Regions from separate parts of the Homo sapiens genome. Here region 2 is linked to region 1. The links come from fine-mapping of genetic effects on gene expression. Tissue or cell type: whole blood. Region 1 holds a variant in brackets; the other region holds the start of a gene. All regions are shown on one strand. Distances are between the middles of the regions.

Evidence for each region. PIP is the estimated chance that this variant, and not a neighbour inherited with it, causes the effect.
Region 2: it holds the start of LINC-PINT, and the variant in region 1 is fine-mapped to the expression of LINC-PINT in whole blood (INTERVAL, PIP 0.92).

What each region holds. Positions count from the first base shown.
Region 1 is chr7:130,953,295-130,958,441 of GRCh38, reverse strand. All of the region lies in intron 5 of LINC-PINT (long intergenic non-protein coding RNA, p53 induced transcript), which reads left to right. Among named protein-coding and RNA genes, the nearest start is that of LINC00513, 42 kb to the right of the region's middle. RefSeq lists an enhancer at 264-323 and a silencer at 1,125-1,174. The variant C/T (reference allele first, on the strand shown) is at 2,134.
Region 2 is chr7:131,106,836-131,111,982 of GRCh38, reverse strand. It overlaps LINC-PINT (long intergenic non-protein coding RNA, p53 induced transcript), which reads left to right and starts at 2,058. Exons shown (of 8, transcript NR_170176.1): 1 at 2,058-2,246; 2 at 3,180-4,263. It also overlaps a transcript of MKLN1 not described here. RefSeq lists silencers at 493-552, 1,703-1,852, 1,933-1,982, 4,040-4,099, 4,120-4,169 and enhancers at 270-811, 3,206-4,057.

The DNA of each region.
Region 1 (5,147 bases):
ATCCCAGCTACTCAGGAGGCTGAGGCAGGAGAATTGCATGAACCTGGGAGACAGAGGTTTCAGTGAGCCGAGATTGTACCACTGCACTCCAGCCTGGGTGACAGAGTGATACTCTGTCTCAAAAAAACAAAACGAAAACAAAAAAAACCTGTGACTTTTGGTTACTCCCCTTCTGTAGAAAAGATGAGCAGGTATTGAGAGAAGTAAACTGTAAACTTGCAGAGGAGTTAAAAACAGACTCAGGTTTTCTTGAACAGTGGACATGGTGGCACTGTCCCTTTGTCATGAACATAGTCCACATATGCCATTACAAACTGTTGACAGTACTGTAAAATATAACACATTCTAGGTAAGGTATTGTCTATATGGTAGATTAAATCAGAAATACAAAGGCTGGGTGTGGTGTTTCACGCCTGTAATCCCAACACTTTGGGAGTCTGAGGTGGGTGGAGCACTTGAGGTCAGGAGTTTGAGACCAGCCTGGCCAACATGGCAAAAACCCATTCCTACTAAAAATACAAAAGTTAGCTGCACGTGGTGGTGCACACCTGTAATCCCAGCTACTTGGGAGACTGAGAAAGGAAAATTGCTTGAACCTGGGAGGCAGAGGTTGCAGTGAGCTGAGATCACGCTACTGCACTCCAGCCTGGGCGACAGAATGAGACTGTGTCTCAGGAAAAAAAAAAGAAAAGAAAAAAAGGAAAAAAGAAGTACAAGTGTGAGGTTAAGTTACTCAAGCATGTGCACACATAGTGTTCCCTATTGTTATTTGAGGCTTGCATTTTTAATTTCATAGAGCTTTTTCTTGTAGTTCTTTTTTGTTGTTGTTGTTGTTGTTATGTTGATGTAATTCTCAAATATTTCCAGGAATACTAATAAATTGGGGGTTTTTTTTTAGTTTTTTTAGAAAAAAATCTTTTTCTTAAATATTCTGTTTCTTTTTTGTTATTGTTGTTTATCTTGGTTTTTCTCTTTCATGTTGCAGACTTTTAAAATATATATTTGATTTTCTTTTTAAAAATGAAGTGCCATTACGGCTGCCTAGAAGTTCTGCATGACAGCATCTGCCTCTAGCAGGCTTCAGCCTGGGTACACAGAGCCACCCTGAGCCCTCTTGCTGGGGAACTGCTAGATGTCAGAATGAGGAGGGCTTGACTGTGGGGTTCTCTTAACCACACTAGCTATTTAGTCTTCACCAGACGTTTGTTTAATTTTTTTTAGAAAATTATCTCCCTTTTCTTATTTTTGCTCTGAAGTGGGGAAGCTATAAGGTTTTTTTTTATAAAGACAGGAAGTAGTCATGAAAAGAATAATTGTTATTTCCAGACTTTTCAATTACTCTTCTCCTTTCTACCTTTCTTGTCACTTCTGTCACAGTTCTTACTTTTCCTGAGTCTGGAGCCTGTTTGGGGTCCATCTGAATAAAATCAACTCTTCACTGCCTTGGCAGTACCCGCTCAGAACTCTCCGGGCTGTAAGCTGCCTCTGCTCAGCTTCATCGCTCAGTGCTCTCCCCACATCCTTCTGGCTTCCTGACATTTGGTGAAATCTCTCAGGCCCCTGAAACTTGTTGTTGTTGTGGGTCTACATACCCCTTTTATAACCGTAGTGGGGTCTTCCAGGCGCCCTGACCGCCATCATGAAAGGAGAAGTACTTTCATTTGTTGATTTGTCAGAAATATATCTGAACAAGTAAATTGGAAATACCTTTAGTCAGGCATTTAGCCAGGAAAAAGATTAGATGGAGCATGATGACTGCAGTGGGTACTGGGGCTTGGGAAAACAAACCCTCACAATTACTGGATTGGGAGGAAACAGTGGGCTGACACTATTATACAAAGATACACTTTCCAGCCAGTAAAGACATAGCCATTAATCATAGAGCCCCATAAGAGGATCTTTTAGCTTTGTTGCTAGAAGAAAGTTGCATCTTGTAAAACATCCAACTTAGTCATTTAAAAAAATCTTTAAGTAGTGGTACTTGTTCCTGATCTTAATACAAATTAAATGTGGATACGCTTGCTTGATTTCTTCCCTGCCCTTTAGCATAAGAGCTTCTGAGAGAATTTCCTATTCTTCCCTTCTGTACTATTTATTTCTTGGGCTATAGACCCTCATACTCCCTCTTCTTTT[C/T]CTTATAAGAAGCAATTCACATTCTCTTTTCCCATCTCCTTTGTGGAAAAAATCTCCAAACCCTTGTTAATTATCCCTTTGTCATGTTCGTCAGGTCGGTCCTGAAAGTGTCAGCAGACACTGTGAAGATGGGAAAAGTAAGATGTTGACTAGTTCTTTAACTTTTGTGACACAAGTGGTGTCCGTTTGTGTCAGAAGAAAGCCTGAATTGATGTTTCCATCTCATGCTTCCCTCCTTTTACTTAGAAAGCAGTTTCTTTGTGAAAAATCCCTGGAGATCTTTCTCAGAGGTATTCCACAGTTAGGGCCAATTACTGCAACATGATGGAAGCTTTAGGTTCTTCTCAGGCCTAGCCTCATTTCTAGCACAATACTAGGAGGCTAAAATCTATCTCTAAAATTTGCAAAGTAATAGTGATGGATGTTAGCTATTTTTAATGTAGCTGCTTAGAGACAGTTGAAGATAGTAAGGGTCATAAGGGCCTTCTCCTATCTGACCTCTGTACCCCTGTAAGTTGTTTACCAGCTTAGAGCCTCCTGTACAGTTCTAGATCAAAGAGCAAGTCCTCTGAGGCCATGCCCTTGGAAGCAGAGATGGAGAGTAGTGAAATCTACTTAGCTCTGAGGGTGTGAGCTCCCAGGCAAGCAGAACACACTTGGGATTTTATTCCTGGTATTGACCAGAACATCTATCATCAGCCTATGCCAAACACCCCCTTTCCACACCTTGTTTCTCCCACCTATTTCGCATAACTTCCTAGAGATGAAGAATGTTTCTGAGTGTGGATTGTCAGATGTCTGCTGAAAAATGGTGGGCCTAAAAAAAACATTCTGTGACTGCAAGAATGTAGAACACTCCCACACTGGTTCTGGGACCTGGCCTATTGGTTGGCTATTACTGTTGAATGAGAGGAGAACCAGCAAATTCTTTCTTTTCCTCTGGAGGAAATACCTTGTATGGATGGTCCCCCAGAGAAGAGAGAGCCATGGCTAGTTGTGAACTGAAGTAATCCAGATACAGGCACCATTTGATGGGATCTAAGTGTGCGAATCAAATTGCATTCTTCAGGAGGACATGGGGATGTCAAGACAATTAAGGAAATCCTACCATCCCTCCATTTTAATTGATGTAAAATTTACATGCATTGAAATGCACAGACATTCAGTGTACTCCTGTTCCCAGACCCCAGTTAAGAGAGAGAACGTTTCTATCACCAGGTTTCCTCTTGCCCCATTCAGTCATTCGCCACCCTCACTGGCAAAAACTTTCTGCTTTCTATCATTGCAGTCTTGTTCTTGAGCTTCCTCTAAATGGAATCATGCAGTATATACTCTTTTGCGTCTGGCTTTTTTTTTCACGCAACAGTTTTATATAGTTGTCTGTATCATTCTTCCTTTATTGCTGGGTGGTATTCCATTGTATGAATAGACCCAATTTTAAACTCTGTTCTCTTGTTGACTGACATATTGATTATTTCCCCATTTTTGGCTACTATGAATATTAAGCTGCTGTGAATGAGTTTTCTCTCACTCTCACTCTTTTTCTTTTCTTTCTTTTTTTATTTTTTATTTTGAGACAGTCCCACTGTGTCACCCAGGCTGAGCTGCAGTGGGGCAATCTCAGCTCACTGCAACCTCTACCTCCCAGGCTTAAGCGATTCTCCTGCCTCAGCCTTCTGAGTAGCTGGGACTACAGGCACGCACCACCACACCTGGCTAATTTTTAAAATTTTAGTAGAGATGGGCTTTCACCATGTTGGCCAGGCTAGTCTCAAACTCCTGACCTCAAATGATCCACCAGCCTCGGCCTCTCAAAGTGCTGGGATTACAGGCGTGAGCCACCACACCTGGCCCACTCTCACTCTTTTTTAGGTTTAATTGCTGCACCGTACACTAGGTGTATGTGTACCTCTGTAAGAAACTGCCAAGTCATTTTCCAAAGTAATCGTACCATTTTACACTCCAACAAGCAATTTATGAAAGTTCCAGGTGACCAGGTATCTTAACATTGTATATTGCTGGTTTTTCTACTTATAGTCGTTCTCTTGGATATGAAGTAGTATCTCATTGTAGTTTTCAATTTGCATTTTCTAGATGAATCACATATACTTATTGGCCATTTGTGTATCTTCCCTTTTGAAGTGTCTGTTCAAGTCGTTTGAGTCTGTTTTTCTTTTGCCTGTTTTAAAATTGGATTGTCTTATTATTTTGGTTGGTAGGAATGTTATACATATTCTGAATAAAATATTCTTGTCAGAAGTTTATAATGCAAATATTTTGCCAGTCTATGGTCTACCTGCTGTTTTTTAAAAGTGTCTTTTGATGAGCAGAAGGTTTTAACTTTGAAATAATTTCATTGATCAAAAATGTTTTTCCTTTGCGAGGCCAAGGCAGGGGAAGATCGCTTGAGCCCAGGAGTTTGAGAGCAGCTTAGGTAACATAGCAAGACCTCAACTCTCTACAAAAAAATAAAATATATTTTTAAAAATTAAAACAAAGATTTCTATATTATCTGTATTTTTTGTTTCCTAAGTAATCTGCCTCCCCAGGATTGTGCAGATATTTCTCTGTGCCTTCTGTTAGAAGACTTATAGCTTTAGCTTTTATGCTTTAGTTTATGATCTATCTCCAGTTGATTTTTATATATGGGGTTAAGTAGAAGTCAAGGTTCATATTTTTGCATACATTTTCCCAGTTGTTCTAACATGGATTGTTGGAAAGACTTTCCTTTTTCCATTGAATTGCTTTGGCGCCTTTCTTGAAAATCAGTTTTCCATATATGTGTGGGTCTATTTCAAAGGAACTTAAAGAATGTTTATATAGACCACATGCGGCATGTACTCAAGTCTAGGAAATAACAGTTCACATTGGTCAACCCTCAAGTGACTGGCATACTCTTTAACTTCTATATCGTGAAACATTTATGTCAAAGATCACTGATAGAAGCTGTATGTGGTGGGAGGCATTTTTTGCTTGTTTTTTGAAGCTAACCCTGCTGAAGCCTCCAGAAGTTC
Region 2 (5,147 bases), 150 kb before region 1:
TGGTAAAAAAGACAATTAGTACACAAAGTGATGGGGTTTCCTATTTGTAGTGTAGCCTTGTAGTCACACTGTGTTCTCCGAATGCCACAATGCTAACCCAAAATTACTTGTCCTTCCTGGGCCTGGATTCCATTCAATTTTATGCCTTGTTTAGTCTAAATGATTTCCCCAGCTTCGACATGTATTTATTTATTTATTTATTTATTTATTTATGCGTTTCATTTTAGAAGTATACTTAAATCTACTCTTTACTCGAGTTTGTCTTAGTTCTAGTGCTGAGGAATGAAGATTCTGGGTAAAAGAAATCAAGATGATGTTTTTTTTTTCTAGGCTTTACATTTCAAGGATTGTTTCTCAAATGGCAACTGGCAGTCTACTCCTCAAATGATGACGTTTTCCACAGGAATTACAATTTAATTGGAATATTTTGTTTTCAATGGGAAGCAAAGATTTCTTTCCAAGAGGATCAGTTTGATAATGTTTTACCAGCTAGTGCTACGAGACCAAATATAAACCAGTTCTGAGAAACAGGAAGTGAACTGACTGGTCTAGTCTGAGTGTCCCTGGCAGTGACGCAAATACAGAAATCAAATTAGGAAAACAAGATATGTGGGTGTGAGGCAATCGATAATAATCCAGGATGCTACAACATAAGCAAGAATGCCTTTAACCCGATGCCATTCATTTTAATAACACCCTGAGCAGTTTGATTTCCACGGAACACGCTGGTGATTAGAGAGCAGCAGGAGCTTGGGTTCCCTAGCAACAGCATGTGCTTTTGAGACAGTCATTAGCCTTTCAGTTAATCCCATCAACCCCTTACCTCTAAATGTATGACTGACATAAAAAAAATGATGTTTTAGAAAGTGCTTTGAAATTTCCAGGAGTGCAATGGAAGGGAATAATCATAATTAAAAAGTTGTCTGGAGAACTACACTCCAGTGAAGGAAGTAATGTTCCTACGTGCCAAGCCTGTCCGTATATTTCCCTGCTCTCAGTTGTAGGTTTCTGAATCCCCTGTGGCAAAGGGCAAGGGAGGTGAAATTGTTCAGAGTTTCAGGCAGTCTTCTCACCTAAAGTGAGTAGTATTGCAATGTCTCTTGGAATCATGGCTCTGAAGATGAGGAGAGAAGCGGGATGGGCAGTTTGTGTGGTGAGGAGGCTGGCTGCAGGTAGGCTGGGAGGGAATGTCACACATAGTTTTCTTTCTCCTTTAAGCCGAATGAGGTATGCTGGTCAAAGGAACTTGGGGAAGGAGGATGGTGAGGGGAATGAAGTTCTTCTTCCTATTGATTGTTTTGTTGCACCAGAGGCTGTTTGTCCAAGGCCACTGGCCAAGAGCATTATTTTCGTGGCTAAAGTGAGGTTGGGCAGGTTTCCCATCCCTTTCACTAGTTTTGAACAAGACAACCCAGAAAGCGCAGCAAGGCTCTGGGAATATGATGTGGGTTGGCTTTTCCTACTCAGCTGCACCTTAAAGCGCCAGGCCGATGGGCTGATACTTCTCAAACCCTGAATCATTGCCTCCAGCTCTGTCCTGGGTTCAGGATGCACCACTCCACCCTCTGTGTAGCTTGGGGTCAACTTCGGGGCGTCACTCCAATAGTAATTATTGCTGCGTTTGGCTGGACATCCTTATTACGGCCTGGGTCCCTCTCAGCTGGAAACTGGGCTCCTTCAGTTTGGCTGGGGTGACTTCTAGCACTTCCCGCCGCCCCACCTTACCCCCCTGCGCGCTCCCTTCCCAAGGCGACCACCTGCACCGCCCCACTTACCATCTGCCCCGCGGGGAGGGCCCCCCGGGCTAGCGGAGCCCTCCCTGCTCCCGGGCGGCTCTGGAGGAGCTCGGTGTTTGCCTCTAGCCCTTCGCTACCGGAGGATCAGGTTCCTCCCCTCCTCCCCCTCCAGCTCCGGCCGCCGCCGCCGCCGCCGCCGCCTCCTTCTTGCATGACACAGCAGAACCGCAGCTGCTGCAGCAATTTCAAGCCATCCGCCCAGGAAGCGCCGCAACCGGGACTCGGGAGGGGTGGAGGGGGCGAGGCAGAGGCCGCGGCCCCAGGGGATCCTTGGCCCCACTGTGCACCACACACTCCTTTCCCAGCCCAGGGGCACGCGAACAAAATGAGGCTCAAGCTGACCAGGCCGAGCCGGAGGAACGCTGGGGCTTGGCAGCAGAAGGGATGGGACCAGAGAGAAGGGTGTGGAGGAGACCCCAGTGAGGGCCAGGACATTTCAGGTAAAGAGAGGTAAGAAGAGGCCCAGAAGTCAAGGGCCAGACTGTGAAGGTGATTAGAGGTCAAAAGAGGTAAGGAGGTAGAGTTGCAAAGAAGAGAGGCCGAGCTGGGAAGGGCGTGGGGGTGGGGGTAGCTGCAGGGGAGGGTGGGGGGTACAGTCTTTGGGGAGGCCCGAGCTGAGCCCCCAGGCAGAAAAGGGGCTGAGTTGGGAGGCAAGGGAGGTAGGAGGAAAGGGATGAAAAGAATTAGGCATGAGATAGGAAGGTAAAACTTGGGAGAGATATTATAGAATTAGAAGGGTTGGAATGGAGCTCATTCATCATGGCTGATGAAGTAAACTGATGAGGTGGAGAGAGACAGAGTCAAGGCAAGGCCAAACGAAAAGATCTTCCATCCCACTCTTCAGTTTCTTGCGAAGTTTTTCTTGATTCCGCCAATCCACACAGTTTCCTTTATAAAATGGAAAAGCATGAACTAAAAAACCCAGAAATAGCTATCTGGCTTAGATTTACAGGATAAAATCTCCATGTCTGTAAAAACTTTAAGGCAGAAATTTGGGATTTATGGTACAAACCCTTTAAGGGACTGTGAGTCAGTAATACCCACAGCACTCAACATTGTGAGTTTCCACACATCCCTGGACTTGAGTGAGTCTTTCCAAGTGTTTGTTAATGGTACAAATGATGACAAAATTAGTGGTTCAAAAATATTAAAGTGCACATGCTTTTTGCTTTCTCTATGTATACAGAGATTACATATATGTATACTTTCTAGCGTCTAGCAAGTATGGTATGGCTAGGGATAATTATGTTTTTCTGATTATTTTGTTTCCCATCAAACACCCCACGAATTTTACAGCAGACCGCCTTCTTGTCACCATTTGAAAGAATGTGGTCAGAAAAGTAATGCAAAAACTGCCACTTTGGTTTTGTCTGTACCTTCCAGGTCATATCTCCGTACCTCACTTCCTGACACAAACAAGTTTTCACTGTTGTCAGCAACAAAGCCCTAATATAGCTGCGGAAGAGAAAAACTGCATTGCATTTTGCCTCCTGCAAGCATCATCAACAGTTACTGGAGGAACGTAATTCCAGAAAGCTTGAAAGCCGTGGTGATGGTAATTATGTATCAAATGCCTGGTTCTATTTCTGTTATTATTGTTTTGTCATTTCTGTTTTCCCAGCGATCTGACTGAACTCGCAGAGGGACAAATCCAGTTTTTCTTTTTGACTTTTGTCAAACTAAATCAGGCCTGATAGAAAACTCATTGCTCTCCGGGGAAACAAAGTAGGAGCCACGAAATGTCATTTTAACAGAGCGTGGGTTTGGTGACTGTAGGAAAGGATTTGAGGACGCTCCTTCTGTTCGGCTTCCTATGTCATGAGCACAGGCTCCACGCACGCACAGACACCACGGCTCCCGGATGCTGTGGCTCCCCGATCGGGGCTCCTGCAGCGCCAGAAGCCCCTCCGGGATGCTTCGAGGGGCTCCCGGTGGGTGGAGGTACGGACGCCGCTGCGGCCGCCGCCGCCAGTCCTGCTGCTGTTGTTGCTGCTGCAGTCACGTGGGAGCCCCTTTAAGTTTCCATAGAGAGGCCTCTCTGGTGTCACATGATGGACATGATATAATGAAACAACATTGTGGAGAGGAAAGCATTAGGGGAGCCCACGGCTACAAAAACAAGTGAGTGAGAAGAGGTGGGAGGAAGAGAAACTACGCCACCTCCCCTGCAGCCGAGTGCACGCAGCAGCCTGGCGTGACAAGTGGGCGACGCCGGGGGGCAGGGAGCCGGGGTCCTTGGCCCTGGCCGGGGACCCCACCGCCCACCGCGCGGAGGACAACTTTTAGCCGGCAGCCCAGACCAGCGCGGCACCTGTCTCCGGAGTCTCCACCGCTCCTCCCGATTCATCCCAGGGAAATTCTCAAGAATACGCTCTACAAATCTACGTGCGCATCATTTTCACCTCGCGTCGCGCCCGGGAGGAAGGAACGAGGCAAGGAGCTAAAGCAGCGTGCGTTCAGCCCTGGGGTAAGTTCGTCGGGTGGGGAAGCCGGTCCCGCAGGACTTTGGGATGGGAATTTTGCTCTCCTTTGCGATCTCAGGGCGTGAAGAAGGCGTCCCCTCCGCTGCCGGCGGAGCTGATCGGCTGGCTAGTCAATTTCCCCTTAGCACGCCCCGTGCGCCCACCCTCGCTCAGCCCGGGGCCCCCTCGCCGTCCCCCGGAAGGGGTCTGCGGTTCCTGGCCAGGACGTTCGGAAGGCGAGCGGGGGAAGGTAGGGCTGTCGCGGGAACCCGGCTTGTGAGAGCGATTTCGCCATGTTTGTGTTGCTAAGAGCACTTTTTCCCCTTTGCTGTGGCTTGATGCCACATGGCTCCTCCGGAGCTGCTGCCGGGCTGAGAGAGTGTTTTTTTTTTTTTTTCAATGTCCGCATTCCAGCTAATGTTGCGCAGATAAAATTCAAACTTGAGGTAAACAGAAGAAGAGGAGGAGGAGGAGGAGGAGGGGAGGGGGGAGGAAGGGGGGACTGTTTCCATTTCGAGATCCCACCTCTTCCCTCCGCGCAGCCCAACATCCCGAACCTAGAGACAACTCTTGCCTTTCTCCCACGTCCCCCACCTTTGCTGTCAACAAGAAATAAAGGCGGGGCGGGGGGGGGGGTTGGAGGTAGGGGGTGGCGTGCTTATTAATTAGAAAGGACGCGGTGTCTCGGTTCTCCACTGGAATCAGCAACTCCCTGGAACTCGGGCCTCTGGCCCCGTCCCTCTTTTCTCCGGCAGGGACGCAGGATGCCTTGGTGCACTCTAGAGACGGGGACCGGAGGGTGCAGCGCGCCTGGGTGGGGCGAAGGGCGCCGGTCTCCTCACGCCCTCTGACTTTAGGATACCAGACAGTGTCTCTTCAACCCCACCCC